Linked DNA regions of Homo sapiens. The protein of the gene in region 2 purifies or fractionates together with the protein of the main gene of each other region. This does not show direct contact. Each region holds a gene or a part of one and is shown on either strand. Other genes may lie near its edges. The genes, in order: POTEI, AFM and GBP1.

Region 1 (10,304 bases), on a different chromosome or scaffold from region 2:
TTACTGAATTCATGTATCAAATCTAGGAGTGTTTTGTAGGAGTCTTTAGGGTTTTCTAGGTATAGGATAATATCATTGGTGAAGAGATAGTTTGACTTCCTCTTTTCCAATTTGGATGCCCTTTATTTCTCTTGCCCAATTGCTCTGCCTAGGACTTCCCAGTTTTATTTTTAATATGCATGAAATAAAAGTAAAATGGAAAGTGCTTAACGATGAGTTTATTTCACATCTCTCTCTCATACACAGATAAAATTATTTCAAAGTCCTATGTTAAAAACATATTATACCCTGTCTTGTTCTAAAAGGAATTTCTAAGTTGTTTATAAAATACATAGGAATCAAGAATATAAGTAGAAAGTGTTTCCAAACAATAAACATAAAGAGTATGGGTTACAGGACACAGACCATTAGCAATCCCTGGCCTGTTAGGACCTGGGCCACACAGCAGGAGGTTCGAGGCAGGTGAGCAAGTGAAGCTCCATCTGTTTACAGCCACTCTCTGTCGCTCGCATTACCGCCCGAGCTCCTCCTCCTGTCAGATCAGCGGTGGCATTAGATTGTCCTGAGTGTGACCTGAACCCTGTTGTAAGTTGCTCATGCAGGGGGATATAGGTTGTTCACTCCTTATGAGAATCGAATGCCTTTCTGATCTGTCACCATCTTCCGTCACCCCCAAATGGGACCATCTAGTTGCAGGAAAACAAGCTCAGGGCTCCCTCTGATTCTACATTTTGGTGAGATATAATTATTTCATTATATATTAATAATAATAGAAATAAAGTGCACAATGAATGTAATATACTTGAATCATCCTGGAACCATCCCCCACCTCAGGTTCCTGGAAAAATTATCTTCCACAAAACCAGTCCCTGGTGCCAGCATGGTTGGGGACACCTGGTTAACAGATGTGAGACCCCTTTGCCTTGTCTTGGAATAATGTGCAGATATGCATTGTGTGAATGACATCTGATGGCGCCATCTTGCCCTGTACATCATTTTAGGGACAGCTCCAGTATTTCATGAAAATTAAAATTTCTTCTAGTGACGAACAAAATGATACTCAGAAGCAATTTTGTGAAGAACAGAACACTGGAATATTACACGATGAGATTCTGATTCATGAAGAAAAGCAGATAGAAGTGGTTGAAAAAATGAATTCTGAGGTATTTTCTTTAGTTATTTTCAAATGTTTTTATATGTGTGTATATTTTAAAGAACTGTATTTTGGAAATATAAAGGATTTTTAAGTCATATATATGTGTGTATATATTCTATATATCCTTTGTCATATATCTATATACGTACGTATAGGATAAAGCCATGTTCTTAATTCACCTTCATTTGCCTGCAACAGTTGAGTAGTGACTTGCACAATGGCCTCAATCCAAAGGAGAAGTATTTGATGTTTTTCATAAGAATTGACGATCTTTCCACATCAGAAATAAGTTTTGCTACTGAAAACAGATTTTCTCATTTTTGGACATTAGTTTTTTAAAAAATGTTAATAGAGAAGTCAATTGATTATTTTTACTGATAAGAAAGTAGGAAATGTATAGCTGGGTCAGAGGCCACATTGTGGATACCATTATCCTTACTTTTGCAGAGAGGAACAGTTTGCTCCAAGTAGTTTCTCATTTCAGTGTAAAGAGGTTTGAAAACAATGACATGCCATGATACACATTTAGTAATAATTTATTGATAAGTATTTTGTTTCTGGAGAAATAGTTCAGTATATTTCCCCTATTTCACCATTACTACTGTTTCAAACATTATAAAGAGGAAATAAAAGTTACCGCAATGGCAAATAATCTCATGATTTCTAAGAAAATCTCTATAAGTTGTATCTTATTTACCATTCATATTTTGAAACAAAAGGTTTCTTTTGTATTTATATATTTACACCACAGAAGTAAGTGTGGTTTTGTGGAGGATCACTAGAAGTAGCATCAGCAGACCTGGGGAAAATCCTGCATCTGTGTATATTTTTTGACCTCTCCTTTTAAGAATCGCGATCTTAAATGAGTTCAGTGTTATATGTAGAAGTGGAATGCCTAGATACAGATGTGTACAGTGTAGAAGGGTACAGTGCTTAGATTTGACAGTTATAAATAAATGTAATTCTTATAACTGAGTATAGAAATATTAGAAATGTAGAATATCGGTAAAATGTTCTTCAGTAAAAGAACTTTAAGAACTTTGAGAAATTGCTTCTGTCCAAATATATGCATAGCTAAGGCTCTTAGGATGGTGTGGTTGATAGGTTAGATATCAGAGTGTAAACCTAATCTTAAAAATGTAGTCAAATTGTTAATCTTATATTTTATGCCTCTGGGTTTTTTGTAACTCAGAAAAAGGCTTTTTTAATTCTGGGATTCTTAAAAATCCTCTAGTGATTTATTTTTCATCGTCTTTAAATAAATATTTAAACTTTTAGGAATTTAGGAGCAGATTCCTAAAAGTTTAAATATTTATTTAAAGGCGATGAAAAATAAATCACTGGAGGAATTTACACTCTTATTAGGTTTGAAGTTTTGTCCAATTTTTTTCCAGTTAAATATCCACTATGGGGATTCTTTCATTATACAAATACATGTTATTTTTGAATTTCAGAAGAAATAATGATATGTCAATCTATTGAGTGCTAACTAAAAGTTCTCTTTGTTTACTTAGCTTTCTCTTAGTTGTAAGAAAGAAAAAGACTTCTTGCATGAAAATAGTACGTTGCGGGAAGAAATTGCCATGCTAAGACTGGAGCTAGACACAATGAAACATCAGAGCCAGCTAAGAAAAAAGAAATATTTGGAGGATATTGAAAGTGTGAAAAAAAAGAATGATAATCTTTTAAAGGCTCTACAATTGAATGAGCTCACCATGGATGATGATACCGCCGTGCTCGTCATTGACAACGGCTCTGGCATGTGCAAGGCCGGCTTTGCGGGCGACGATGCCCCCCGGGCTGTCTTCCCTTCCATCGTGGGGCGCCCCAGGCAGCAGGGCATGATGGGGGGCATGCATCAGAAAGAGTCCTATGTGGGCAAGGAGGCCCAGAGCAAGAGAGGCATCCTGACCCTGAAGTACCCCATGGAACACGGCATCATCACCAACTGGGATGACATGGAGAAGATCTGGCACCACACCTTCTACAACGAGCTGCGTGTGGCCCCTGAGGAGCACCCCATCCTGCTGACCGAGGCCCCCCTGAACCCCAAGGCCAACCGCGAGAAGATGACCCAGATCATGTTTGAGACCTTCAACACCCCAGCCATGTACGTGGCCATCCAGGCCATGCTGTCCCTGTACACCTCTGGCCGTACTACTGGCATCGTGATGGACTCTGGTGACGGGGTCACCCACACTGTGCCCATCTATGATGGGAATGCCCTCCCCCATGCCACCCTGCGCCTAGACCTGGCTGGGCGGGAACTGACTGACTACCTCATGAAGATCCTCACCGAGCGTGGCTATAGGTTCACCACCATGGCCGAGCGGGAAATCGTGCGTGACATCAAAGAGAAGCTGTGCTATGTTGCCCTGGACTTCGAGCAGGAGATGGCCATGGCGGCCTCCAGCTCCTCCCTAGAGAAGAGCTACGAGCTGCCCGATGGCCAGGTCATCACCATCGGCAACGAGTGGTTCCGCTGCCCCGAGGCGCTCTTCCAGCCTTGCTTCCTGGGCATGGAATCCTGTGGCATCCATGAAACTACCTTCAACTCCATCATGAAGTCTGATGTGGACATCCGCAAAGACCTGTACACCAACACAGTGCTGTCTGGCGGCACCACCATGTACCCTGGCATGGCCCACAGAATGCAGAAGGAGATCGCTGCCCTGGCGCCTAGCATGTTGAAGATCAGGATCATTGCTCCTCCCAAGCGCAAGTACTCCGTGTGGGTCGGTGGCTCCATCCTGGCCTCGCTGTCCACCTTCCAGCAGATGTGGATCAGCAAGCAGGAGTATGATGAGTCAGGCCCCTCCATTGTCCACCGCAAATGCTTCTAGGTGGACTCTGACTTAGTTGCGTTACACCCTTTCTTGACAAAACCAAACTTCTCAGAAAACAACATGAGATTGGCATGGCTTTATTTGTTTTCTTGTTTCATTTTTTGTTTTGTTTTTTATTGGCTTGACTCAGGATTTAAAAACCGGAATGGTGAAGGTGACAGCAGTCGGTTGGAGGAAGCTTCCTCCAAAGTTCTACAATGTGGCCAAGGACTTTGATTGTACATTGTTCTTCTTTTCAATAGTCATTCCAAATATTGTGAGACGCATTGTTTCAGGAAGCCCCTTGCCCTGCTAAAAGCCACCCCACTTCTCTCTAAGGAGAATGGCCCAGTCCTCTCCCTAGTTCACACAGGGGAGGTGATAGCATTGCTTTTGTGCAGATTACATAATGCAAAATTTTTTGAATCTTCGCCTTAATACTTTTTAATTTTGTTTTATTTTGAATGATCAGCCTTCGTGGCCCCCCTCTTTTGTACCCCAACTTGGGGTGTATGAAGGCTTTTGGTCTCCCTGAGAGTGGCTGGAGGCAGCCAGGGCTTACCTGTACTCTGACTTGAGGAGAGTTGGATAAAAGTGCACACCTTAAAAAAAATTGAGGAAGCACAGTATTTCAGTACAGTGGACAGCTTAGCATGTTGACAACTGAGAATAAAATGCTCAGTTCTGAACTGGACAATGTAAGACACAACGAGGAAACACCGGAAATGGAAATTCAATTACGTCATTGTAGACTGGCTGCTGCTCTACATGATTGTGACCAAAGTCAGATAGCTGAAAGAGACTTCTTTCCAGAGAACAAGACATGAACAGGTTTATTTACAGAAGACAATGAATTCTCATTTATCTCACCTAAAAGAGAACAGATTCTTTCTCAACAAGTCTAACGTAGACAGTAAAATCAACAGGCTAAAAATTAAGCTCCATGAAACAAGATAAAACTCTGAGAGAAAAGACGGGGCAGGCCGCCATCTTTCCCGTTCAGGCAACTTAGTCATTCCAGCCTGCGGGCTTTGGAGAGTACAAACCGACGAGGGACAGAAGAGATCCCACAGCACAGCATAGCTGCTTTACCAAATCATGGCCAGACTGCTTCTGTAAGCAGGCCCCTGATCCTGTTCCATCTCACTGGACAGGACCTCCCAACTGGGGCCTCCAGCTACCCCCACCAGCATTCCTTGGCCAATGGAAATGTGAAATGTTCCTGGGACAGAGCTCCCGGAGAGGGGCAGGCCCCCACCTTTGCTCTTTCGGTGACTAGCCATTCTGGCCTGCGGGCTTTGGAGAGCCCAAGCTGACAAGGGGTGGAAGAGGTACCTCAGCACAGCACAGCCACGCTACCAAAACGTGGCCAGACTCTTGTTTACGTCAGTCCCTGACCACATTTCTAGTCAGTGGGTGAAGTCTTTCAACCAGGGTCTCTGGCTACCTTGACTGCTGTTCTCTGGCCGACAGAGGTCTCAGGCCTCCCTGAGTCAGAGCTCCCAGGGGGAGGACCAGATTGTCATCTTTGCTGTTGGGGCGACCCAGGCATTTCAGCCTTAGGGCTTCAGAGTGTCTGAGGCGGACCAGGGGCTGAAGTGAACCCCCAGCACAGCACAGCTGCTCTATAAAAACGTGGCCAGACTTTTCTTTTTGAAGCAAGTCCCTGTTCTTGTTCGTCCTGACTAGGTAAGACTTCTCAACTTGCCTCCAGCCACATCTTATAGGTGTGTTCAGATTGGCAACAGGTTCGTACCTCAGTGGTACAGAGCTTCCAGAGGAAGGGGCAGACTATCATCTTCCCTGGAAAATACAAGGCAATTAGGGACTGGAGGGGACCCCCAGCATACCACAGCAGCCCTACAGAAAAGTGGCCAGGCTCTCTACTTGATGGGCAGATCCTCCTGGCCTGGGTCTCTAGCCAGCCCACCACTGGAGCTATCAAGCCAGTAGCAACTCTGCAGTTCCTGGGACAGAGCTTCCAGGAGCAAATGAAATCCTTTCTGCCACTGCCTCTGCAGTGGAACTGCCCTTGCTGCCCTCAGAAGATGCAAGGGAGCAAAGACCCTAAGTGCCCTATCAACACCTCCAATAAGCTGCAGTTGACCCAAAGAACAAGCCAGTCCATCTCCCACGGGTACCACACACCCTCCACTACTCATCACCAGACAGGGAACCCTGGCTTGGGCCCACAGCACAGACCCTCCATCCTGGGCTGATTACACTAAGTGATTGCTAACTCACATGTCTCTGGGATGGAGCACCCAGGAAACAAGCAAAGTGGTGGAGCAGCAAGTCAGGTGATGTGGAGCCCAGAGGTCAGGGATGGCTGTCTCTCTAGGGTCCACTTGCCCTTGTGAGACACTTTATCCCAGCACTTTAGGAATACTGAGGTCATACCAGCCACATCTTATATGCAAGATTGCCCAGCAGAGATCAGGTCCGAGAGTTCCCTTTTTAAAAAAAGGAGACTTGCTTAATAAAAGAAGTCTAGCCACGTTTGTGTAGAGCGGCTGTGCTGTGCTGGGGGTTCACTTTTGAGAGAGTTCTCCTCTGAGACCTGATCTCTGGAGGCTGGGCAATCTTGCACTTGAGATGGGGCTGGTCTGATCTCAGCACTCCTTAGTCTGCTCGCCTCTCCCATGGCCCCAGCCTGGCCACACCTGCTTACGGGGCACTCTTAGATGCCCACACCATAGCTTCCGTGCTAGTGGACTGTACCATATCAGTGGAGAGCTGCAGCAAGGTGGCCCCTAGAGCCACGCACCAGCCTGCACATTGCCTCTCCATACGGCAGCCCTTTATTTGGAAACTTCCTAAATCACTTTGCTGTGTGTGTTTACACGGGTGGGTTTTGCTTTACTTGCCCTGAGAGCACACAGGAGTGCAGCACACACCCCAACCCACATCAACTGCCATTAAAGAAAAGAAATTTCAGCCCAGAATTTCATGTCCAGCAAAATTAAGCATCATAAGTGAAGGAGAAATAAGATCCTTTTCAGACAAGCAAGTGCTGAGGGAATTTGGTATCACCAGATCTACCTTACGAGAGCTCCTGAAGGAAGCACTAAATATGGAAAGAAAAGATCATCACCTGCTACTACAAAAACACACTGAAGTACACAGTCCAATGATGCTAAAAAGCAAGCACATATGTAAGTCTGCAAAATAACCAGCTGACAGCATGACGACAGGATAAAATCCACACATACCATTACTAACCTTAAATGTAAATGGGCTAAATGCTCCCATTGAAAGACACGGGGCAAGCTGGGTAAAGAACCAAGACCCACTGGAGTATGCCGTCTTCAAGCAACCCATCTCACGTGCAGTGCCATACATAGGCTCAAAATAAAGGAATGGAGAAAAATATTTCAAGCAAATGGAAAACAGAAAAAAGGTGTTGCACTCCCAGTTTCTGACAAAACAGACTCTACCAATAAAGATAAAAAAAGAGAAGGACATTACAAAGGTGGTCCTGACCTTTGATAAATCTCATTATTGCTTGATACCAACCTGGGCTATTTGTATTGCCCAAACCAATAGGATAATTTGCTGAGGTTGTGGAGCTTCTCCCCTTCACAGAGTCCCTGATCTCCGAAAATTTGGTTGAGATGTAAGGTTGATTTTGCTGTACAACTCCTTTTTTGAAGTTTTACTCATTTCCAACAAGGAAGGCAAGTTTTCCTGCTTCCATTGACAAAGGAGAGCAGGCACCTCCTTTCCTGAGTTTCAGCTTGCTTCTGACAGGGAAGGTGAGTGTAAGTTTTTCCAGCTTCTAAGATGGCAGAGAATGATCACCCAGTCTGAGCCTTATTTCCAGGTAAGTAGCTGAATTAGAGTTTTGTCTTAAAATTTTTCCTTAATGACTAAAATTTAAGATTACCCACCAGCTGCTTTTAATTCCTCCTTACCATTAGAACACTCAGTTAATCATATGAATTGTGCATTTGTTTGTTTTGCTTAACTCTTTTTGTTTATGTTTGGGGTTTTATTGTTGTTTCACTTTTCTCCCATCTCTTCCTGACTTGGTCAAATCCAAAGGAATGTTCCAAATTGTGGGGAGCAAGGCATCTGAATTGGCTAAAACTCCTGGGGCTGCAAAACAAAAACAAAAACAAAACAAAACAAAAAAACAACAAAAAAAAAAACCACAAAAAACAAAAAAAAATCCAGTTGGAAATTTTTTAAAACTTTTTTTTAATTTTTAAATTTTATTATTATACTTTAAGTTTTAGGGTACATGTGCACAATGTGCAGGTTTGTTACATATGTATACATGTGCCATGTTGGTGTGCTGCACCCATTAACTCGTCATTTAACATGAGGTATATCTCCTAATGCTATCCCTCCCTGCTCCCCCACCCCACAACAGTTCTCGGTGTGTTATGTTACCCTTCTGTGTCCACGTGTTCTCATTGTTCAGTTCCCACCTACGAGTGAGAACATGAGGTGTTTGGTTTTCTGTTCTTGTGTTTGTTTGCTGAGAATGATGATTTCCAGCTTCATCCATGTCCCTGCAAAGGACATGAACTCATCCTTTTTTATGGGTGCATAGCATTCCATAGTGTATATATGCCACATTATCCAGTCTATCATTGATGGGCGTTTGGGTTGCTTCCAAGTGTTTGCTGTTGTGAACTGTGCCGCAGTAAACATACGTGTGCATGTGTCTTTATATTAGAATGATTTATTATTTTTTCAGTATATACCCAGTAATGGGATTGCTGGGTTAAATGTATTTCTAGTTGTAGATCCTTGAGGAATTGTCACACTGTCTTCCACAATGGATGAACTAATTTATACTACCACCAAGAGTGTAAAAGCGTTCCTATTTCTCCACGTCCTCTCCAACATCTGTTGTTTCCTCATCTTTTAATGTTGGCCATTCTAAGTGGTGTGAGATTGTATCTCATTGTGGTTTTGATTTCCGTTTCTCTAATGACCAGTGATGATGTGGTTTGCTTCACATGTTCTTTAGCTGCATAAATGTCTTATTTGGGAAGTGTCTGTTCATATGTTTTGCCCATTTTTTGATGGGGTTGTTTTTTTTCTTGTAAATTTGTTTAAGTTCTTTGTAGATTCTGCATATTAGCCGTTTGCCAGATGGATAGATTGCAAAAATTTTCTCCCATTCTGTGGGTTGCCTGTTCACTCTGATGATAGTTTCTTTTGCTCTGCAGACACTCTTTAGCTTAATTAGGTTCCATTTGTCAATTTTGGCTTTTGTTGCCATTGCTTTTGGTGTTGTAGTGATGAAGTCTCTGCCCATGCCTATGTCCTGAATGGTATTGCCTAACACAAGGACATTTCTGTGCCTGAGTGCCATACCACCCAAAGTGATTTATAGATTCAGTGCTATCCCCATCAAGCTACCATTGACTTTCTTCACAAAATTAGAAAAACTACTTTAAATTTCATATGGAACCAAAAAAGAGTCTACATAGCCAAGACAATCCTAAGCAAAAAGAACAAAGCTGGAGGCATCACAGTACCTGACTTCAAACTATTCTACAAGGCCACAGTAACGGAAACAGCATGGTACTGGTACCAAACCAGATATATAGACCAATGGAATAGAACAGAGGCCACAGAAATGGCACCACACATGTAAAACCACCACATCTTTGACAAAACTGACAAAGGTAAGCACTGGGGAAAGGATTGCCTATTTAATAAATGGTGTTAGGAAAACTGTCTAGCCATATGCAGCAAACTGAAACTGGGCCACTTCCTTACACTTTATACAAAAATTAACTTAAGAAGGATAAAAGAGTTAAATGTAAGACCTAAAAGCAAAAAATCTAGAAGAAAATGTAGGCCACCAACCTCAGGGGAAATGTACTTGTAGTGAAATGCATGGTACAAACACACATTCCCTACTTCCTTGAGTGGGTGAGGTTGGTGGCTGGTCCATCTGCTCCAAGTGGACCCTTACAGATGTGGCTGGTTGCTCTTTGAGCCAGCTTGGCCTTGCCCAGCATGCACAAGCATCAGTGAATAACTGTGCTATAAATGGAGCCACATAGAGGAAATGAGCAGCAGGCTCAAGACCATGGTGTGCACTGCCTTTGGGGCTCCAGTCCGTGCCTCAGGGATGGTATGGCACTGCGAGCTTCTTGGTTGCCAAGAGGCAGACCACAGGCCATCTTGAGGAGGACTTTATGTTCAAGTGCAGAAAACAGCCAGGATTACCACCCAGGGGACTTGGCCTTCTGTGGCCGTGGCCAGACTTAGAATTTGTGTCAAGGCATGGCAAGCTCACTCGGAGCAGCGTGTTGGTACCTGGGGCCTGTGCATGCCAGGGAAGGCCAGGCTGGCTC
Region 2 (10,687 bases):
GGAAGGTATGCAAGTACAAGATGCAGTGATGATGTTTAATAAATACTATTTTCATAGAAAACTTAATTCTTGCCCAGGTCATAGAAATAGAGTTCAAAGAGGCCTTAGAAAGACCATGACTGGATGCCACCAAAAACCCAGGTGGTAGCTGCTCACACACATGCAGTCTTGGCATTGAGTATTGCAGCAGGAGGCTTATCACATGTATAAGCATCTCTAGTGTTAGAAAATTTTTTTCTGCATCAAACCAGATATGTTCTATTCATTGGTATGAGTTCTGTCCAAGTAATACAGAGTAAGACTAATTCATGCCCACTCCAAATCTCCTCCTTTTCAGGCAACTGTGTCTTTTGCAGAAGCCATTCTTCTCCCTCCTTTCCTGCTTTGATCAATGTGTGTTCTGGCATGGCAGTAGAGAAAGAGTTGTATGGCAGTTTCCATTGCCATGATAGAAACTTTATGATGGCGGCAAGTGCCTGGGTCCCTGATTTTGTATCTGCTTCTCTTAGCACAGTATTGAATACATAGCAGAATCCAGTATAAAATTAAGTTCACTAATTATGCTTTGTTTCACTTCCGTTTTCTAAATCTACTATCTATTGTTTAAGTAAAGCAATACTTCCTTCTTATCCTCATTGGTAAATGAGAGTGCTTGGAGAAAGTGGTTAGAGGACAAAATAACTTTATGACTTACACACCTGTTATCTGCTGGCCAATGTATTAAGTACTTTATATAGTAATTTAATTCTTTTCTCTAAAGCCTTTGTGACTTGATATTAGCCCATCCTACACAAAGAAATTGATGTCATAGAGTATAAGGAACTTATCTGGGGCTGTACAGTAAATTAATGGCAGTAGGGATATAAAGCACCCGCTGCCATCCCTTTCTCACTCTGCACCTTCAGCTTAGAGTGAGTGCCTGGACCCTGCACGTATGACATTGAAACGTGATTGCATGTTTACTGTCCCTCTCCCCTGCTTAGCAAGAAACAGGAACCAATTCTGTCTCATATTTGTATCCACAATGTCTGACACACAATAGAATTCTAATAAATACTTGTTGAATAAATCAATGAGAATCCCAAAGACTATGCTCTAAACACTCTACCAAAATAACTCTATGAATAGCCTCATGTATTATCTATTAAATGGCCAACATCTTCAAATGTAAACATTGGCATACAAAAATCTTCAAAGTTTAGAGAACCACCAGGAAAGCCAGGCCATGAGTCCATAACCAGTCTTCATTTCCTGAGTTACTTCTCCTTTGATATCAATATCAAGCATTTATATCACTAACACAACAGCAATTCTGGCTTGGAATGGAGGGCGAGAACCACCACTGTCATTGTTGCCTTGTACAATCATTCCACCTCTCTGAATAACAGATTTTGTAAGGCATGCAACATGGCCATACCTAAGAGGTAGTGTATGCAATGGTTAACAATATTGTTCCACAAAGCTGGAGGCATCACATTACCCAACTTCAAACTTCAAACCAAATACCGTGGGAGCTAAACATTGAGTACATGGACATAAAGACAGGAACGATAGATACTGGGGACTACTACAGAGGGGTGGGAGGGAGAGGGGTGTGGGTTGAAAAACTAACTACTGGGTACTATGCTCGCTACTTGGGTGATGAGATCCATACACCAAACCACAGCACCATGCAATATACACATGTAACAAACCTGTACATGAACCCCCTATATCTAAAATAAAAGTTGAAATTATAAAATATATAATATATATAAAATTCTGGAAGTATATATTATATTATATATTATATATTTTATAATATGTTACAGTAATGTAATATATTATACAGTATTATATATAATATATAACATTATTATTACATAATATATAATATATATGTTATATACATTTATATATAGTTCCAGAATTAGAGAACCTAAATTCAAACCCTGGTTCTGCCAATTACTAGTGATATCACACTGAACACATTAGTTTATCTCCCCAAGCCTTAGATTTCCTGTTTGTAAAATGTAAATGAAAATAATACCTACCCATAGAGTTATTAGATTAAATGAAATAATGCATGAAAACTAGCTAGAACAATGTTTGGTACATTGAAAACATTCAATGTCATCTACTAGTAGTAGCAGTAGTTGTAGCAGTAAAGTTTCATGCCCAAAATTCTCAGTTTTCTTTCTGGTAGTTTCAAGGACATCTTAGAGCACTGTGCCTACCCAGCTGCTATTCAGACTTCCATCTTTCATGGATAGGGAATGGTGCAGCCATGTGAGCAAAAGATGCTGATGGAATGAATGAATCATGATTGCTTGATTTTGTGATTAGGTTGATTTATGACATCGGTCTGAAAAATAACTTTACAAAATGTTGTGTTTATTGCTTGCTGCAATGTATTATTTCAGGTGACAGTTACAGAAAAATCCTTTTATTTTGTTCTCAGGAAATGCGATTCATCACCACACAGATAGGAAGCCTTCCCTGGAAAGAGAAGATAGTATTTCATGCATCAAAAAAACATGAAATGTTGAAAGTTGGGTGATAGAAAGTCGAGTATTTGAAAAAACTATTAGTGGTAACCGTGTTTTGTCCCTTGTAAATCCCAACCTACCTTCTGTTGAGGTCCAGGTCTCTCTTCACTGACACTGTATATAACTCCTATATCTACGCAACATTTTGTTGCTAAAGTTTGTGTTTCAGGTCTTACATAAGCCACAAAGGGGAGGGCATCTTTATATATCTTTTTGAAATCACAAACATATCGCTTTTTGTTCACGTAAATGCTGTAGCAATACCCTTGGTTTGTATGTGAATCATATCTCAGTAAAGCAATATTCTTAAAAGATTATTGGAAAGGGTCACTGAGGTCTGTCTGCCCACCTCAGTCCCCAGGGAGTTACCCCTCTTCTTTCTGTCAACATTCAGAGGTTCCATCATCCCTCCTTTGTGGTCCAGACAGCTGAATACATGAGTAGGAAGGCAGAGGACTTAAGCGCCTCTTGGTTATCTAGAAAACTGATTGAACAGCAAGAGAAGGGCAAGCACAAATGCAGCATTGCCACCCCATAAGGAGTGGCTGATACCCAGAAAAACACAGGAACAATATCGGGGTCTGTTAGCTACATGTGCATTTCTTGTTCATGTAGGATGAACCAGAAATAGACAAAGAAGCATGAGGGAGAAAAGGCAAGGAGATCAGATAAGCCACAAATACATTTGACATTTGAATGAGGCAGAGGGTATTACCTTTGGTGCTTTTTTCTTTACATATCTCCAGCAGCTGGCTTCAGTTGCCAATTTTTGGACTCTGAGGTGAGGGATGGAAATAAAAACACATAGGAAGAAAAATTTAAGACACTAGTTTAAATTTAGATAAGCATGTTTTCCTGAATTTTGAAGAAAATTAAATCATTCCCACGTTGTACAGGGAAACAGTAAACATTCTTTCTTCTAGTGAAAAAATAGACACCGAAAGGCTCTTTACAACTGCCAAAAATTCATCCTTTCCTTCACATGGCCCTAATGTACACACTCACTCAGATAAATGCTAGATATTGATTAATATCCTTTACTTAAAATTAGGTATATTTTTTAAAAACTAGTAATATGTACCCCAGAAAAATTTCCACAAACTAAGTGTCACTCAGAAAAGTAGATGGCTCACAACCAGAATGAATCACGTGTGTGAGTTTGTCTGCCTGTGAGTTTACATGAATTGTGAGTTTGGAGTGGAGTGAGTGTTCCTAGAAAAGAAACAGTGAGAAATAAAGTTGGAAAACAGTGAACAGGCATTTCCATGGAGCCATCCATTGGGGCTAACATTCACAGGTTGCTGAGGTTCAAACCAGAGCAAATGGCTACAGACTACCTTCACTGGAGCGAGGGCAAGCAAGGGACATTTCTCCCTTTTCTCCCTGACTACCCTTACCCTCCACTCCCTCATTATTCTCAACTGCAGGATGTTAGCACAAGGCCTGGGAAAGTGAGACAGCCACTCCTGAAAGACTTCACTTTCTAATACCCTTCCTGCTCTGCTCCATTTGGAGCTGTTTATGATTTCCTTTGCAAGTCGCTTTGACTCTGTCTTATTAAGATAATGAGTGGTTCAAAACCAAAAAATAAGAACCAAAGGTGTAATTCAGGGATAATTATTACCATCCTCATTTAAAGATAGTTAATTGCCATTCAGTTTAAGTTGCATGACTTACAAGACTGCTGGGGTTACAACCCAGGTCTTCCGACAGCTTTTTCTGTACTAAGGAGACACTGCTCAAAGTGTATTTCAGAGATGTCTACATATTAGTTGTGTAGCAATTGTGCTCTCAAATGTAGTCCTGGTAGACACTGCAGAGAGGAAGCAGTGTCCTGCAGGGTTCTGTTTTATTTTATTTGACCAGGAAAACCAGTTGAATTTCAGTAGAAAAGAAATAAAACTACCTCTTCATTAAAGCAGACTTCAGGACTCTCTGCTTTGCAGCACTTATCCACTACATTTGCGAAATTTGTAAACAAAGACTGCAGCTCTTCATCTGTGAGTTCATGCTTCAGCTTCACTAAGTTGACAAGAAACCTGTGGCCAAAAGATGTCAAATAAAATTAATTAACGCTTTCTTTCTGAAGCGTCTCTACTCCAAAATGCTTGTTACAGAATCACGTCTTGAGTCTCAGCTTGGGTGTGGGTAAAGAGTTGAAATATACCACTTTGAATGGGTCTTCTGAAACTTTCCTATTAAATTTAGAGAATGGTTTCCACAGTAACATTCTTTGAAGGGTTTTGTCACACACAAAATTATACAAAAAGTATTAACAAGGAGGAAGAGAGGGATGACGAGAAGTTGGCCAAGGAGTACAAAAATACAATTAGATAGCAGTAATAAGTTCTAGTATTCAGTAGTATAGTAGGAAAATTAAAGTTAACAGTAATTTATTGTATATTTCAAAATAGCTAGAAGAGGAGAATTGTAATGTTCCCAGTACAAAGAAAAGATAAATGTTTTAGATGATGGACATTCCAATTACCCTGACTTGATCATTACACATTTATGCAGTTATCAAAATATCACATGTACCCCCAAAATATGTACAACTATTATATGTCAATTAAAAATGATGTCAAAGGAGCAATTAAAAAAATAAGCTATCACAATTAAGTGTGACAACAGCCATAGACAATAATGATTTCCTTATTTTCTAGTAAATTCTAGAATTCCAGTATTCTAGTAACTTATAGAATTCCAAACTTCAGGGGGCAACCCATTGATGTCTTAAAAGTACATTTTAGAGTACATTTTTAGAGTAATTATTTTAAGTAATAAAATTTTAATGCACCAAAGAGGAAAATGTAATAAGTCCCGTATGCCCATCCTTCGATCTAAGAATTAACAAAAATTTGCATTTTCTCGCTTTCATTTTTAAAATGAAAACAGGATAGTTAAAAAGAATAAAATAGACCAGACTAGAATAGGATGGACTGGAAAATACAAGAGTGTATTGCACTGTGAATCTATGAATATTGCACATAATAAGAGTATTATTCTATTTAAAAATGAAAACATATATTAGGCCTTTATTATGCCAAGTATTATGGTATACATGACTACGTCTGATCTTTCCAGAAAATTCATGTCCAAAACAACCTCCATTTCCTCATATTTGGTAGCTGAATGTTGTCTCCACTACACATTAGGCAGACTCTGTCTAAATCCAAAAAACTAGGTCTAATTTCCTGGCATTTTAAAGCATTTATTGAGAAAATGAAAGTAAACTTCCTGGCCCTTTAGGCCTCTCCTTTGTAAACACTAAATGATATTCTCCGGGCATTCCCTCAAGGAAATGAAATTCATTATCAGCCTGCCTATGAGCCTTTTTGCTGGCTGCTGTAAACTTTCTAAAGGTAATGTTAGACTTGGACATTCCAAGTCTCTTTCAAATGAAAAGACAAGCTAGATATAAACAATGGCAAAAAAAAAATATGCACTTGTATTTTTCCATATAGAAGAGACTGGACAATTTGGTGGAAGGAACAGGATTGTGATATCAAAAAGACATATCCACTAGATAAACCTTCTCACTAATACATGGTGTGTCTTCAAACCAAAGAAAAAGAAGAATGGAAGAGATTATTTGTACCTGTCTGTCTTCCTCTGAAGCTCCTCATTCTGAGATTGACACATGTCTGCGTGAAAGGTAAATAAATCTTGAGAGAAAGGTGGAGGCACATATGTTTTATCAGCTTTCAAACTCTCAAAGCAGGGCCTTCTGAAGGCAAAGTTTGTTTTACAGCAGTGGTCCACAGCAGGGTTGATAGTTCGATTTTCATTTACTCCACATAACTCTCCAAAAACTAAATCTGCCTGTACCAACAAGAGTTGCAACTGAGATACGATCTTAAAACTTGAATGGAATTTCTAAAAATATGGTTAGATGAATACTTAGATCTTTCTAAGATCACTGTTAACCTCACTCATAAAACACATGCACTCATGACATATCCCTATATACAAGTAAAACTAGAAGCTGGGGTCCTAAATGGCATTATGACCAAAATCCAAGCCATAAGAATTTAGATGCCTACAAATTAATTTCTTGGTGGCATATAAACAAACTTTCAATTGCAAACAGACAGCTGCAAAAAGCCAACTGAAAGGGGCGATCAAACACTGTGGTACAGGGGTTTCTTCCCCTCCTGGCATCTGCCTCAAGGTACTCTCCACCCCAGCCCTAAAGAGATGTATTCAATGCCTGATTGCTGGATGAAGCAATGGGGCCAAGAGGAAGAATCTGTAACCTTACTTAAAATTATAAAGTTTCCTGTATCATTTTGAAACAATATTATGATTCCTAAATCATTTGTCCTAACAAATCCCTTCTAATACAATGAAGAAATAAGAAAGATAATTTGAAGTACTCTCCAAAAATATTGAAGACATTCTGTTTTACTTCTTAGGGTTTTCACAAAGTGAGCCAAAAGGAAAACTTGACAATTTTTGCTTAACAATATTAAAACAGTGAAGAAAGGAATATGGATAATCACGGTAAATCAATGAGTGCAAATATTCTTTTTTTTAAAAAAAAAAAAAAAGAGTAGTCTGGTACACAGGCCATGCTCACCAAATTATCAACACAGGCAAACTCTTCACTTAGCGTACAGCAAGTAGTGAAAGCTGTCACCATTTTCTCGCCAAGAGACACCAGTTCTTCAGTGGAGAGTTGGGGAGCTATCTTCGTGAGCCTGATGAGGTAACTGAAAGAACATTTGTCTGTTTGGTTCTGAATGAAAGCAGATACCCATTTTCCCTTGAATTACTGCTGAAGCCCAGACCCTTCAAGGCTAGCGACAACCAATATAGGTGCAACATGAACCTTAGCTCTCTCATAAAGTAGAGAAATATGTCTTTACTTCCTGTTTTCCTGCACCCTGCTTCCTATATCTATTTTAGCTTCCTTTCTAATTTCACGGTTGTCTCAGAAGCTCTTAGATTTGCCTCCCCGTGTTATCTTTAAGTATAGGAGCTCCTTGACAGCAAATACATTGGCTAGTATCTAAAATCTTGCTTAAAATAATTTACATCATTAGAAAATATTTTAAAGAAAGAATTTAATCAATATATGTTGTAAAAGGATAATCTGAGATGAAGAAAACTAAGATTTTTAATGAACTAAGTTTGAATTGTCAGCTAACAGCCAAATTGCAGAAATAGGAAAGTCAGATATTTTTAAACTGTGTTTTATTTTGATTTAAAGATGTTTAGTTTCAATAAATAATACATTAGCATGAGGCCAGGTGCAGTGGCTCACACCTGTAATCCCAGCAAAGTCCGAAGGGTTGGATTGCTTGAGCTCAGAAGTTCAAGACCAGCCTGTGCAACATGGCAAAACGCCATCTCTACCAAAAAATACAAACATCAGCCAGGGATGGTGGCTCACGTCTGTAGCCCTAGCTACTTGAGAGGCTGACGTGGGAGGATCACTGGAGCCTGTGAGGCAGAGATTGCAGTGAGCTGAGATCACACCACTGCACTCCAGCCTGGGTGACAGAGAGACCCTGTCTCAAAAATATGTAGTAATGATAATAATAACAATAATAATAATGATAATAAAATACATTGACATAATAATTGAAAAAAACCCAAACTGCATATTATTCACAAATGCTCACAAGAGCACTAAAAAGCTAAATATTAAAGTGTTAAACACATCCTGAGTTATTTCTATAAACTCAGGTAAGATAGCCGTAAGGCAAGGCAAGGCAAACTATCTCTTCCCCAAAGAAACTGTAATGACCTGAAATATGCAGTGTCCCACTTTGAAATGGGTGAGGATGCAGGGATTCTAGATTGGCAGTGAGAAAGCCAATGTCAAACAGAAACCAAAGCATTAGAGAATCAATGTCTCCAGAATCCTGTATTTCTTTTATTTTTAGCTTCATTTCTGATAAAAGATTAATGTGACAGTTCAATAGGCATTCTTGACTTTAAAAAAAAATTCTTCCAAGAGTTTATGAATCGGCCATAACTGAAAAACTTGACAGCTAACTTTTTTACGCTTCGAGGGATTATGTATTCAATTCTAGTGGCAAGTGTTAGCCCACTTGTGCAAACAACATACTGGTATTTCAAACCATCCTTCCCCAAATTCTGGAAATGTTTACATTCTTGTTGTACCATCTTGAGGCTTTTCTCAGTTGTCTCATTGAATTTGTCTTCCTGAAAATAAGAATAATCATGGTTACAAACATTTTATCTAAAATTTAACCATAAGCTTTACATCAATGTGTAGAATAGCATTTCTTATTTCTATGGTATTTTCAAATTCTCATTATTACACTAAATTCAGGGCACTTTTTACAAGCACGTGCAAGAACTTAATTTTTTAATTATGTATATAAAAATATATTTCTTGCTAAATTTAAAAGTCCAAATTTTTTTATTATCACCTTGTACATATTTCAGAGCCTTCCAAATTACAAAACAGAATTTAAATTGTATGTTGAAAATAATAACATTCAGTTGTCACTTTGAAGTGGCAAGAGCAGTTGTTATCTCCATTTTTAAGTAAAGGCAACTGGCCTTGTGAAATTAAGTGACTTACCCAGAATACCCCAGCTAGTAAGTGTTGTTACAGAACATTTTAAATCATGTTGCTCTTTTTGATTTTTTCATTGTTTAGATTTGGAACTTAAAACCTCCAACAGTTTTCTTCAAATATTTGATGGACTATCTCTCATGTGGCATAAAATTGGACATCTTCTGAGTGGCCACCAGACAGAGAACTAAACACCAGTGGATAGCTATTGTGGAGCAAATTGTATCTCCATGAAAAGAGAGAATTTTCTAGCGCTATGATTAATTTAAGGATCAGAAACAGACTACCTCATTAGGGACAGTTACAGAGCAGGGATCCAAGTCTTATTCCATTGCTCAAATTTGAGTGGGTATAAACTGGTGTTTGTGGCAAGTGAAAAAAAATGTTTTGCTAAAGCAAAAGTAGCACATATCAAAGGAAGGAGAAATAAATCAAAAAATGTCAAATTATTAATTTCTCTAATATGTATTCAGAAATACATATGAATTTATATGAAAAACACTAATTTCAACAGGAAAATGGGTAGTACACATGAACAGATTTTTCACAGAAAATGTGTAAATAGCTAAAATCATATGGAAAAAATTTAACAATTTAAAAATCAAATAAAGGTGTTTTAAAAACACAAACACTGTTATTTACATATAAATCTAGCAAAGTTAATTTCCATGTGCAATGTTGGTAAAAGTGACATTGAAATGAGCATTTCCAAGCACTGTTGTGGGGCCAGACACCAGAAACAACTTTCTTGACAGTAATTCAACAATTTGTGTTAAATGTTTTTTAAAGTTCATATATTTTGATCCAATAATTTTCCTTCTGATAATCCATCCTAAGAAAAAAGCCATAAATATTAATAAAGATAAATGGAAGGAGACGTTCATCTCAGGGTCACTTACAAAGTGAAAAACACCCTAAGCAAACATCCAAAATGTCAAACACACAGTAGGAAATCAGTTAAATAAATTAAATAATTATGATGGGATACCATCATTTAAAAAGAAGTTTATTTTCAAGTCTGTTTAATGACGTAAAAAGTTTTCTATACTAGACACAAGAAGAGTCAAGGACTAGCTTCCCTAGAGGGAACACAGCCCTTCTGACACCTGATGTTAGCCCCATGAGACTCATTTCAGGCTTCTGGCCTCTTGTGAGAGAATAAATTTTTGTTGGTTTAAGCCGCTCCCTTTGTGGCAACAGCAGGAAACCAAGGAAGCACAATTTATAACAACAACAACAAAAAAGTTTTCTATGATACCAAATAAAAAAACAGGTCCAAACATTTTCTAGGAATTATGCCAATCTTATTTTTAAAATACACGTATATATACGTATATGTACTGAAGAGTTGAACACAAATGTTAATTATAGCTATTTCCCAGTGGGAGAATCAGAAAAGGGTTCTTTGTAACCTTTGTTGCTTTCCTAATAATCAACAACAATCAATCATTACTTTTGAAACCATAAAGAATCCAATATGGCTTAATAAAATACAGAATATTTTCCTAGTCATCTACAGCAATCATTGCTTTTGAAATCATGTAATATCCAATACGGCTTAATAAAATACAGAATACATAAAGAAAAATGTAAATTTAAAATGTTT
Region 3 (12,319 bases), on a different chromosome or scaffold from region 2:
TTATCTTATTAAATATTCAAAATAATACTATATGGCCAACATAGGTCTTTTCCATACATTTTAAAGATTAGAATGCTGAGGCGAAAATAAGTCAATTTTCTCAGGCTACTGAATTAGTGACAGAATTTAAATTTAAATACAAAGTCACATGGCTTTAGCACCCAAATTCTTAACTAAAGTTCTGTGCAGGATAAGACTTATGACACTGGGATTATTTGTGCTCCCTTTATGCATCTGTGTTAACCCACACATATTACAGCCTGTAGTTAATAGTTAATAAACAATTAACCGCTGCATAAAATATTCAGAGAGGAGGGGCTTACTCCACAACTGGATCCTTGAGTCTCACCTTCTCTACATCTCCCAGACCCTCGGTGTCCAGCAGAACTAGGATGTGGCCTGGCTTCTTGGGGTGGGGCACACACCACATCCAGATTCCTTTAGTGTGAGACTGCACCGTGGAGCCCAGAGAGAAGCCTGCAAGGGAGAGAGGAGACCAGCGATGGGGATTTAGTAACAGGCAGTTCTGGCAATTGAAGGAAAAAGTAGTATATTTAAGGTTAAGAGAGAGAACTGAAACAACAATCAGTATTCACCTTACGTACTTACAATCAAAGAAATAGGAAATTTGAATATCCAATGCATGGAAACATTCAGGAGGCTTTCATGATAAAAATAATCAACAAAGTAGAAATAGAAAGACAGCACCTCAACATAATAAATGCCATGTATTAAAAACCCACAGCTAACTTCACATTTAATGATGAAACGTCATAGCTTTTCCTATAACATCATGAACAAGAAAAGGATGCCTACTTTTGTCAATTGCATTCCACAGAACACTGCAAGTCCTATCCAGAGTAATTAGACAAGAGAAGCATAAAGGAGGCATCCTAATTGGTAATGAAAAAGTAAAATTATCTCTGTCTGCTGATGATAGTATCTAATTTGTAGAAAACATTAACTATCCCACAAAAAACTATTAGAACTATTAAAACAATTCATCAAAGTTGCAGCATGCAAAGTCAATATGGAGAAATCAGTTGCTAGTGTAAAAAATAGAAAAGGAAATTTTGGAAACAATCCAATTTAACAGCATCAAAAGAATAAACTACTTAGGAATCAGCTTAACCAAGCAGGTGGAAGACTTGTAGAGTGAAAACTTCAAACACCCTTTAAAGAAATTATAGATGACATAAGTTATTAGAAAGACATCCTGTGTTTATGGATTGGAAGACTTAATATTCTTAAGATGTCACTACTACCCAAAGTGATGTACAGGTTTGATATAATCCCTACCAACATTCCAATTACTTTGTATAAATAGAAAAATCCACCATAAATTTCATATGAAATTTCCAGAGATCCCCTAATTATAAAAATAAAAAGGAAGAGCAAAGTTGGAGTCTCACAGTTTCTGAGTTGTGAAACGTATTACAAAACCATGTGTGGTACTGGTATAAAGACTGACATATAAACCAATAGAATAGAAAAGACAGCCCATGAATAAACTCTGATATATATGGTCAAATGATTTCCAGTATGGGTGTCAAGATCATTTAATGAAGAAAGGAGAGTCTCTTTAACAAATGATGTTGAGGAAATGATATATCTCCTTAAAAAGTTGGGCTATTACCTTATAACTTACAAATATGAACTCAAAATGGATCAAAGAACCAAACATTAGAGTTGAAACTATAAAAGTTGTAGAAGAAAATAAAGGGTAAAAGTTTTATAATATTGGATTTGGAAATTATTTTTTGAATAAGAAACCAAAACTATAGACAATAAAAGAAAAAATAGATTAGTGGGACTTCAGCAAAATTTAAAACTTTTGTGTATTAACGGACACTATCAACAGAGTTAAAAAAGGCAACACACGGAATGTAAGAAAATGGTTTCTAAACATGTATATGATAAGGGATTGATATCTAGAAAATATAAAAAAATTTACAAAGCAACAGAAATAAACAACCAGATTAATAAATGAACAATGGACTTGAATAGACATTCTCCCAAAGAAGATATACAAGTGGCCAATAAGCACGTGAAAAGATGCTCAACATCACTAGTCATTACGGAAATCAAAATCAAAACCACAACGAGATACTACTTAACTTCCATTCGTATGGCCACTATAAAAAAAAAAAACCACTGAAAATAAAAAATGTTGGTGAGGATGTAGAGAAATTAGAACCCTTGTGCATTTCTGTTGAGAATGTAAAACGGTACAGTCACTGTGGAAAATGGTATAGTGATTTCTTAAAAAAAGTTAACATGCAATGACTGCATGAGCCAGCAATTCCCCTTCTGGGTATATTCCCAAAAGAAGTGAAAGCAGGGACTTGAACAGATATTCAGACACCCATGTTCCTATTAGCATTATTTATAATAGACAAAAGGTGGAAGAAATCCAAGTGTCCATTGACAGATGAAGAGATAAACAAATTAGTATACACGTACAATTACTAAGCCTTAAAAAGGAAGAGTTTTGACACATGCTAACACACTGATGAACCTTGAAGACATATGAATTGAAATAAGCCAGTCATAAAAGGACAAATATTGAATGATTCCACTTATATAAGGTTTCTGTAGTAGTCAAATTCATAGAGATAGAATGTAGAATGATGGCAGGCAATGGGTTTATGTGGAGCTTTTGTTTAGTTAATACAGTTTCTGTTAGGCAAGATGAAAGATTTCTGGATATGGATGGAGGTGACAGCTGTATAACAATGTGAATTTCATTAATGCTACAGAGCTGTACACTTAAAAATGGTTACGAGGTTAAATTTTATTTTTTTTACAACAACAAAAAATAATATCCACTACAGATTGAAACATTTTTTCAACCTTAAAGATCACTGTGAACTCTGTTATTGCATAAAAATTGTAATAAACATTGTATAGTTTATTATAGTTATTATTATGTACATTAATTATTTTTATTACTGTCTTACTCCTTTTAGGAGAGGCATAATTTGTGCTTTTGAAATGGAAACTAAGGTATCATGGGAATAATTAATGAATTGATTCTTATCCCCTAGAACAGCGTGAAGATAAGGAGCCCGACTGTGAATGGAAAGTTAGCTTTCAGTATTCATCCTCATCTCTTTCTCTCCTCACATCTTCATAATGGAGGCTGACTGTGTAGATGGACAGAAGGGACTTGGCAGAGCTTTGCTCATGCCACTCACCCTTTTTCTTTCCAGCCAGCTTGTTCATCAGGTAGGATTTGCCTGTGCGGTAGAGGCCCACAATTGCCACCACCACCATAGGCTGTGTAATGGCAGAAAGGATCTTCAGAGCTTCTGGATTCGCCATCAGTCGCCCATTAGTGTTCTCAATGAGGCACATTGGGCCTGTCATGTGGATCTCTGATGCCATGTCCAGGCTGTTCCCTTGTCTGCAAGAGAAGAGGTGAAATACATGAGAATTTCTAGTGTTTTGCAATTATAAGGGAGAATCATAAGATTCCCCAGTATGGCCAAAAGTTTTGTGTGTGACAGCAAAAGAGATGAGGCAAAATCTGTATCATTTGAGAAAGTTATGGAAGTATTGTCAAAGTAGCTCATTATGAAAAATGTTAGCATGACAGTGACTTATCAACACTCAACTACTCTCACGACCCAAATATTTCATTTAGTTTATTGTGGAAAACTTTCTTTTTGGATTCTTATTAGATATTTTCACTAGTCAATTAATGGAAGATAGAATAGGATTTAGAGGATTTATTTGCATCCTGGCTGTATGTAAGGAATTCAATATTGATTCACTTATTAATTCTCACAGTGAATAAACATCCAACACAGTGAATCAGTATTCATAGTTTGATGTTTACCCTTAGAAAAATTTCCAAAGATTTTTAAATGTGTTCCTTCCTCCATCTTCAAATGATTATGCTTATTTCACTGCAATGAGGATTGACAAAGCTTCTCACATTGCCATTCTGGAAGTGGTAACAATGTAACATACTTTTGCAAATTTTATAAAACTATACAACCATGTGAAACACATGGCTAGGGAACCTTCCAAGGGCTCCTAAGGGTCATGTCCAAGAGAAGGGCCCTGAAACTTAAGCTTCATTAGAGTCACGATAAGATAGCTTCTAAGTCACTGAGGGTATGAATGCAAAATTGCAAATACTGAATGTTTCCTCCAGATAATAAGGATTAAAAGATCAAGAGGCAGATAAAGAGAGCTACCTAGGAAGTTGTTCAAATAAAATATATTTCCAGCGATACAGCTTTAGGATTTCTGTTTTGTTCTGTTTTCCATTTGGTAGGGTAGGAGAAAGAGAAATAGAAAGAGGAGGAATAGTAGGAGTGGAGAGGAGGATAAGGGGCTGGGAATGTGTGTGTGTGTGTGTGTGTGTGTGTGTGTGTGTGTGTGTGAGAGAGAGAGAGAGAGAGAGAGAGAGAGAGAGAGGAGCTGTCAGACCAGAGGTGATGAATGAGGCTAGTGTCTTGACAAGGCATTCAGGGGAAGACTTTGCAGAAGGCAGGATCAAAGTAGTCTGAGTGCATGGAGAGGTTAAAGTAAGCAAAGATATTTTCTGTAGAGATGCATTACAGGAGAATTAAAGAGGAAACACTTTTGGCCCTGCTCTCTACTAAAAGAAGACAAAATTGGAAGCACTTCAGTGAAGCAGTGGGGTTGAATTTCACTTCTAAGGGACAGGGATCAGTGGGCACTAGGAAATTAGTGAGTCTGGACTATTTCTAAAGAAAGTAATCCATTCTGAAACAAAGTTCACAAGTGTAATAAAAAGTATACTGTTTTCATGAATCTTCATCTTTCAGGCTGAGTTTCAGTTTTTTCTTTGTCTTTAACCGTGTCAGTGGGCTGCTTACTCTGCTTCTCATTTGCTGTTCTTTCCTTCCATGAAAAGAACCCGTTTGTAACTCTTCCATTTCTTAGCTGCATAGAAGCAGGATTCAGTCCATCACTGACGATGGAAATGTAATCATATCCCTAGTCAACATAGATAATGTCAACAAAGAGAAAGACTATCCTAGTACATTTCAAATGCTCAGTTTAGCCCCTGTCTACTGGTGCCTAATTCAACACAAGCACTGTAGTGGCACTTAAGGCCATGCTGTCCCTGATAACACCAGGATTTCATCTGACCTGCGTCCCACTTCAGGCTCATCTGCAGCCTAATTTGGTTCTGATGATGTTTAAGAAAATGAACTGACCTTTATAAATTCCTTCCCATCCCTGCCACAACCTTATAGGTTCCATATCACTGAGCTGAGATCCTTTGGAGCTAGAGAGAAAGCTGCTTGATGAGAAGTAGTAAAAGTTCTTACCTGTTCTTTTTCTCCTTAGTTCACGAGCACTGGCTTCTAGCACTTCTGTGTCTCTCACTGGATCCCTGGACTAATATTTCACTGTTCCGAAGTTGTAGGGCTGGGATTTCCTCATTGATGAAATATTTAGAAGCTAAGCAGATTTGTAATGGATTTAGAGTAATATGAAACTGAAAGTACTTCGTTCAAATCACTGACTCCACTACCATAAATGGAATTAGTGGAGTGTGCCAGTGGGAGGGTTTAAAGATTTCTCAACCAGAAGCTTCAAATTTTTTTTGTTGTTGTTGGAAATCTTAGAGACCATTTGTTGTCTAACAAAATGCCCATTAGGTTTTGAATACAATGATACATGTCTCATGGATTGAGTCAATTTGAGAAACCTAGAATGAGGAGGCATCATGTTAATTTTCAGCTACAATTTCCTAAAATAATAGACACACTCTCAATGGAGCTGCCTATTCTTTGAGAGGTGCAGTACATAAGGAAAGGACATGTTTAACACACTCATGAACACCTAACCCCTGGCACTTAATGCCCAGCACACAGCCAGGAGGGGGCTCCATGTGTTGTACTCATGTTCTAGGCTCAGTACTGATGGCTTTACATGAATCGCACAACTGAAAACTCATAATATTTCCTCATGGTTTTATAGAAACTGAGCACAGAAAGACTTTATTAGTTGTCTAAAATCATAACACTGTAACTAATCTGAACCCAAGCACTCATGATCCCATACCCTCTTCTTGAACCACTTCACTATGCTGCTTATTTACTAAGTGAAAAATTGTAGAAATATTTTATTTATAGGTTTTTTATTTTTAAATTTATTATAGTGTGATTTTATTTTTATAGATTGTTTTCTAAGAGCTGTTTGTGTTTTATGTCTAATTCAGTAATGACTTCTAGCATACAGAATAAGTGGCATTATCTCTATTTTACAGCAAAAGCAAATAAAATAGTAAAAAGCCTGAGTGAACATTTCATTTAAAAATATATTTATAGTGATGTGGTTTCACTTTGTTGCTTAGGTTGGTCTTGAACTCCTTCCTTCAAATGATCCCCCTGCCTCGGCCTCCCAAATTGCTGGGATTATAGGCATGAGCCACCAGACCCAACCTTGTGTGAGCATTTCTTTTTTTTTCTTTTTCTTTTTCTTTTTTTTTTTTTTTTTTTTTGAGATGGAGTTTCACTCTTGTTGCCCAGGCTGGAGTGCAGTGGCACGATCTCGGCTCACTGCAACCTCCGCCTCCTGGGTTCAATCAATTCTCCTGCCTCAGCCTCCCAAGTAGCTGGGACTACAGGCATGTACCACTATCCTGGCTAATTTTGTATTTTTAGTAGAGATGGGGTTTCTCCATGGTGGTCAGGCTGGTCTCGAACTCCCGACCTCAGATGATCCACCCACCTTGGCCTCCCAAAGTGCTGGGATTACAAGTGTGAGCCACCAGGCCTGGCCAAGCATTTCTCACTTACACATTAAAATTATATATTAGATGTATATAAATTGCAGATACAGTGTCTTTTCTCATTCATACTTTGTAAAATAATTTTATCTAAACTCTTTCTATCATCCTTCCTTAACACTGTAGCTCCTTTATTATTAAAACTACTTTAAAGTCTTTTACTTTTTAGAGCATAACATTCTTACATCTGTCAAAATTATTTGAACCATTTAAAATCTCTGCAGATTGTCCTGGAAGTGTAGGGGTGGGTTGCCCCTCCACACCTGTGGGTGTTTCTCGTAAGGTGGAACGAGAGACTTAGGAAAGAAAAAGACACAGAGACAAAGTAGAGAGAAAGAAATAAGGGGAGCCGGGGAACCAGCGTTCAGCATATGGAGGATCCCGCCAGCCTCTGAGTTCCCTTAGTATTTATTGATCATTCGTGGGTGTTTCTCCGAGAGGGGGATGTGTCAGGGTCACAAGACAATTGTGGGGAGAGGGTCAGCAGACAAACACGTGAACAAAGGTCTTTGCATCATAGACAAGGTAAAGGATTAAGTGCTGTGCTTTTAGATACGCATACACATAAACATCTCAATGCTTTACAAAGCAGTATTGCTGCCCGCATGTCCCACCTCCAGCCTTAAGGTGGTTTTTCCCTATCTCAGTAGATGGAACATACAATCGGGTTTTATACCGAGACATTCCATTGCCCAGGGACGGGCAGGAGACAGATGCCTTCCTCTTGTCTCAACTGCAAGAGGCATGCCTTCCTCTTATACTAATCCTCCTCAGCACAGACCCTTTACGGGTGTCGGGCTGGGGGACGGTCAGGTCTTTCCCTTCCCACAAGGCCATATTTCAGACTATCACATGGGGGGAAACCTTGGACAATACCTGGCTTTCCTAGGCAGAGGTCCCTGAGGCCTTCCACAGTTTTTGTGTCCCTGGGTACTTGAGATTAGGGAGTGGTGATGACTCTTAAGGAGCGTGCTGCCTTCAAGCATCTGTTTAACAAAGCACATCTTGCACCGCCCTTAATCCATTTAACCCTGAGTTTGACACAGCACATGTTTCAGAGAGCACGGGGTTGGGGGTAAGGTCACAGAATCTCAAGGCAGAAGAATTTTTCTTAGTACATAACAAAATGGAGTCTCCCATGTCTACTTCTTTCTACACAGACACAGTGACAATCTGATCTCTCTTGCTTTTCCCCACAGGAAGCATACATCACAATGAAACATCTATTCAAGGAGAGCTCCTATAACTCCGGTAAGAATAACAAGAATCTGTGGCACTTGACCCTTGGGCCTCTTCATCCTCATTTTCAGTTCGGGTTGACAAAAGGTCCACTACTGGGGGCTATGGAAAGAAGGTGGGGCTGCCTCTTCTCTCACATTCTGAGCAGGGATGACATATCCTATCAGGAGTGCCAGTCCACCAGAATTTTTCATCCCCTCCAATAGTGAGTTGTAAAGACTAAATTTCTGGTGAGTGTGACCAGAAGTCAAGGGCTCCCAAACTTTCCCAGTCCCACTCATAGAGCAGAGGCTCCATAACTGCCCAACAGGTTCTCCTTGCCTGTTGCCTAGGTAGAGCTGATTTATCAAGACAGGGGAATTGCAGTAGAGAAAGCGTTTAATTCACGCAGAGCTGGCTGTATGGGATTCTCAAGTTTTATTATTACTCAAAAGATTCTCCCTGATAATGTGGGTATGGGGGTTTCTGAGGATAATTTGGTGGGTAGGAGGTTGGGGAGTGGGGAGTGCTGATTGGCTGGGTTAGGGATGAAATCACAGGGCATCAAAGTTGTCCTCTTGCATGAGTTGGTTCCTGGCTGGGGGCCACAAGACCAGATGAGCCAGTTTATTGACCTGGATGGCAATTGGAGAGGTCTGGAATCTTGTGGCCTCTAGCTGCATGACTCTCAGACCACAGTTTCTAATCTCATGGCTGATTTGTTAGTCTTGCAAAGTTAGTCTAGTTCTCAGGGAAGAAGGGGTTTTATTTTGGGAAAAGGCTGACTAAATTCCTTCCAATGTCAGTTTGGCCTATGCTCAGGGATGAACAAGGACAGCTTGGAGGTTAGAAGTAAGATAGAGTCAGGTCAGATCTCTTTCACATAATAATATTCTCAGTTATAATTTTTGCAAGAAGATTTCAGCTTTAGCTCAGGAATGGCAGAATGAGAAACCCTGGCCTGTCACCCTCACTCTGGTTCACTTGTAGGGTGGTTTTTCCGTGTTGGGAGGGGCAACTGGCAAAGAGCAGAAGCTACCACCTCTGCCCATTCGAAGGGGTCATGGCTCAGAGATATTTTCCAGAGAGAGAGAGGCAGTCCATAAAATCAGAGCTCCAAAGCTTTTCCCACAGAAACTGACTTTATTTGAAAAAGAGTGTGGGCCGGGGGGAGATTCAAGCCTGGAAACATAAATAAAATTTACTACTAGATGACTGACTTTACAAGAAATACTATTAATAAAAGAAGGTTTTCAGGCAGAAAGCAGATGACTCCAGATGGCAATACACATCCACATGGACAAACAAAGAGCACCAGTAAGATAATTATATAGTTATAAAAGACTGTATAAATGCATATTTCTTCTTATTTCTCTTTTTAACTAATTTTTAAAAGACAGTTGTATAAAGCAATATGTATATAATTGTGTTTCAGGCTCATAACATATAGAAACGTGATATACTTAAGAACAGGACAAGAGAGGACAGTAGGAGCGAAGCTGCATTGGAATAAAGAAATGACAGCAGATGTTAACTTGAACCCCCAGGAATACATTAAGAGAACCTGAAACTGTAAGTTAACATAACAAGCTCTATACATTTATACCTTCCCCTTCAGCTTCTTTAAAAGACATAAAATTATGTGAATTAATTATAACAATGTATTATATTGTTTGAACATATATTTAACGTATTTAATAGTATCAAAAAAGTGAGAAAACTAGTATTTTTAGATTTATAAGAGTAAAAATTTTCTCATTGGAATTGATTTAGCATAAATGTGATATACATTCTCATAAATTACATATATGATACACTCTAGAGAAATTAGTAAGAAAATATTAGAACTCAAATCAATAACCTAATCTTTTACCTTAAGACGCTGGTGAATGAAGAGCAAACTAAACCCAAAGCTAGCAGAAAGAAGAAAATAATAAAGAATTTTGGAAATAAAGAGTAGAAATTAATGAGATAGAGAATATAAGACAAAAGTAGAGAAAATCAATAAAATCAAAAGCTGTTCTTAGAAGAGATCAACAAAATTGGCAAAAAAAACCTGTTTTGTTAGACTGGCCAAAACAAAACAAAAAACCCAGCAGAAGAACAGGAGACTCAAATTACCAAAATCAAGAATGAAAAAGGGGACATTACTTCTGACCTTACAAAAATAAAAAAGATTTTAAGGTAATGCTATCAACAACTGTATGCCAACAAATTAAATTAGACATAATGGACAAATTCGTAGAAAGACTCAAACTACCAAAACTGCCCCAAATTGAAAGTGAAAGCAGGGACAAGCTCTTCATTTCTGGGAAATAGACTAGATATTAAGAAAACCACTCTTTTCTGTTTAGTGCAATGTGTTGGGGACAGTTTTTGTGCTTTTTGTTTTTATGTCAGACAGCTGGGAAAAAATATTTAGGGAATTTTTCATTTAGATGGTGGGGATGAGGAAGCATCATTTCCTCACTTTCGGTTCATTTGGTTTGCAGGCTATGGAATTCTTCTAGTAGATGGTCACAGATCAAATTAATTCACAGTTTAGTATTATTACATGATGCAATAATTATTGTATATATGCCTAGCAGTCTCAATATCAGCATCCAATGAACAGACTGAATTTCAGGTGTGGAATGTTTTGATAGTAAGCTTATTTTCACACAAAGAGCTCTATGCAGCTGCCCGTAGAGTGCATAGCAAGAGGGATTCAGTGATTCAGCTGGGGTCACTGAGTCTCATATCAAATGGATGCAAGACCTGCAAGCTAGAAAAACAACCATATGCATGTGTGTGTATAGAGAGCAAATACACTGCATGCACAGCACTGTACTAGGTGCTGAGAAGTGTATGAAGATGAATTAGACACAGGCACTGCCCTAAACTGGACTTACTCTAGTGGGTAAGATTGACTTGCACTCAAAGCATAAAAGCAAAGGCCTGGAGAGGAGTGGAAGAATGGAGCACTGAACACTGAAATATGTAGCCCAAGATTGCACATTGGAAGATTTCAAACTTTTATCCATGAAGAATTTCCTTTCATGTCACCCAAGATTGCACATTTTATGTAGCCCAAGATTGCACATTGGAAGATTTCAAACTTTTATCCGTGAAGAATTTCCTTTCATGTCACTTATGTGAAATGAGTTGAGTTTTAATTTTATAAAAAATGACCTGTCAGTAAAAAACAGACACGTAGACCAATGGAACAGAATAGAGAATTCAGAAATAAATTTACATATTTAAAGTCACCTTATTTTTGACACAAAGGCCAGCAATATACATTGGGGAATGTATGTTCATAATTGATGCTGGGAAATGTGGATATTAATGTGCTGTATGAAAAATCAATTCAAAATGGATTAAATATTTAAATGTAAGACCCCCAGCTTTAAAACTATCACAGAAAAACATAGGGAAAACACTTGTGGACATCAGTCCAGGCAACAATTTGATGGGTAAAACTTCAATAGCACACTCAACAAAAGCAAAAATAGACAAATGAGACTGTTAAACTAAAAGGTTTTTGTGCAGCAAAGGAAAAAACCAACAGAATGGAGAGTCATCTTATGTAATGGGATAATGTATTTGCAAGCTATTCAACTGACAAAGGACTAATATTCAGAATATACAAGAGTCTCAACTCAAAAACAAACAAACAATCTTATTTAAAAAATGGGCAAAATATATGAATAGACGTTTCTCAAAAGAAGACATACAAATGGCTAACAAGTATATAAAAAATGCTCAACATGTCTTAGATCTGGCAGAATGACCGAATAGGAACAGCTCTGGTCTGTAGCTCCCAGTGAGACCAACACAGAAGATGATTTCTGCATTTCCAACTGAGGTACCCTGTTCATCTCATTGGGACTGATTAGGCAGTGGGTACAGCCCATGGAGAAGCAGGGTGGGGGCGTTGACTTACCTGGGAAGTGCAAGGAGCCAGGGTCCTCCCTCTCTCAGCCAAGGGGAGCCCTGAAGGACTGTGCTATTCAGCCCAGATACTATGCTTTTCCCACGGTTTTTGCAATCCACAGACCAGGATATTCCCTCCTGTGCCTACACCACCAGGACCCTGGGTTTCAAGCACAAAACTGGGCAGCTGTTTGGGGAGACACCGAGCTAGCTGTAGGATTTTTTTTTTTGTACCCTAGTGGCACCTGGAACCCCAGCGAGACAGAACTGTTCACTCCCCTGGAAAGGAGGCTGAAGCCAGGGAGCCAAGTGGTCTTGCTCAATGGGTCCCACTCCCACACAGCCCAGCAAGCTAAGAACCACTGGCTTGAAATTCTCACTGCCAGCACAGCAGTCTGAAGTTGACCT

The links.
Region 1: the proteins of AFM (region 2) and POTEI purify together in Homo sapiens (affinity purification with mass spectrometry; 2 studies listed by BioGRID and IntAct, with this or other methods). This does not show direct contact.
Region 3: the proteins of AFM (region 2) and GBP1 purify together in Homo sapiens (affinity purification with mass spectrometry; 2 studies listed by BioGRID and IntAct, with this or other methods). This does not show direct contact.

The regions. Positions count from the first base shown.
Region 1 is NC_000002.12:130,456,511-130,466,814, reverse strand, and holds the end of POTEI (POTE ankyrin domain family member I), read left to right. Parts: intron 1-1,042; coding exon 1,043-1,163; intron 1,164-2,670; coding exon 2,671-3,999; 3' UTR 4,000-7,360; downstream 7,361-10,304.
Region 2 is NC_000004.12:73,495,667-73,506,353, reverse strand, and holds the end of AFM (afamin precursor), read right to left. Parts: intron 8,703-10,687; coding exon 8,605-8,702; intron 7,241-8,604; coding exon 7,108-7,240; intron 6,351-7,107; coding exon 6,127-6,350; intron 4,568-6,126; coding exon 4,435-4,567; intron 3,305-4,434; coding exon 3,284-3,304; 3' UTR 3,244-3,283; intron 2,479-3,243; 3' UTR 2,353-2,478; downstream 1-2,352. UniProt on the Homo sapiens protein: Functions as a carrier for hydrophobic molecules in body fluids. Essential for the solubility and activity of lipidated Wnt family members, including WNT1, WNT2B, WNT3, WNT3A, WNT5A, WNT7A, WNT7B, WNT8, WNT9A, WNT9B, WNT10A and WNT10B. Binds vitamin E.
Region 3 is NC_000001.11:89,059,848-89,072,166, forward strand, and holds the start of GBP1 (guanylate-binding protein 1), read right to left. Parts: upstream 5,362-12,319; 5' UTR 5,313-5,361; intron 3,407-5,312; 5' UTR 3,388-3,406; coding exon 3,198-3,387; intron 478-3,197; coding exon 350-477; intron 1-349.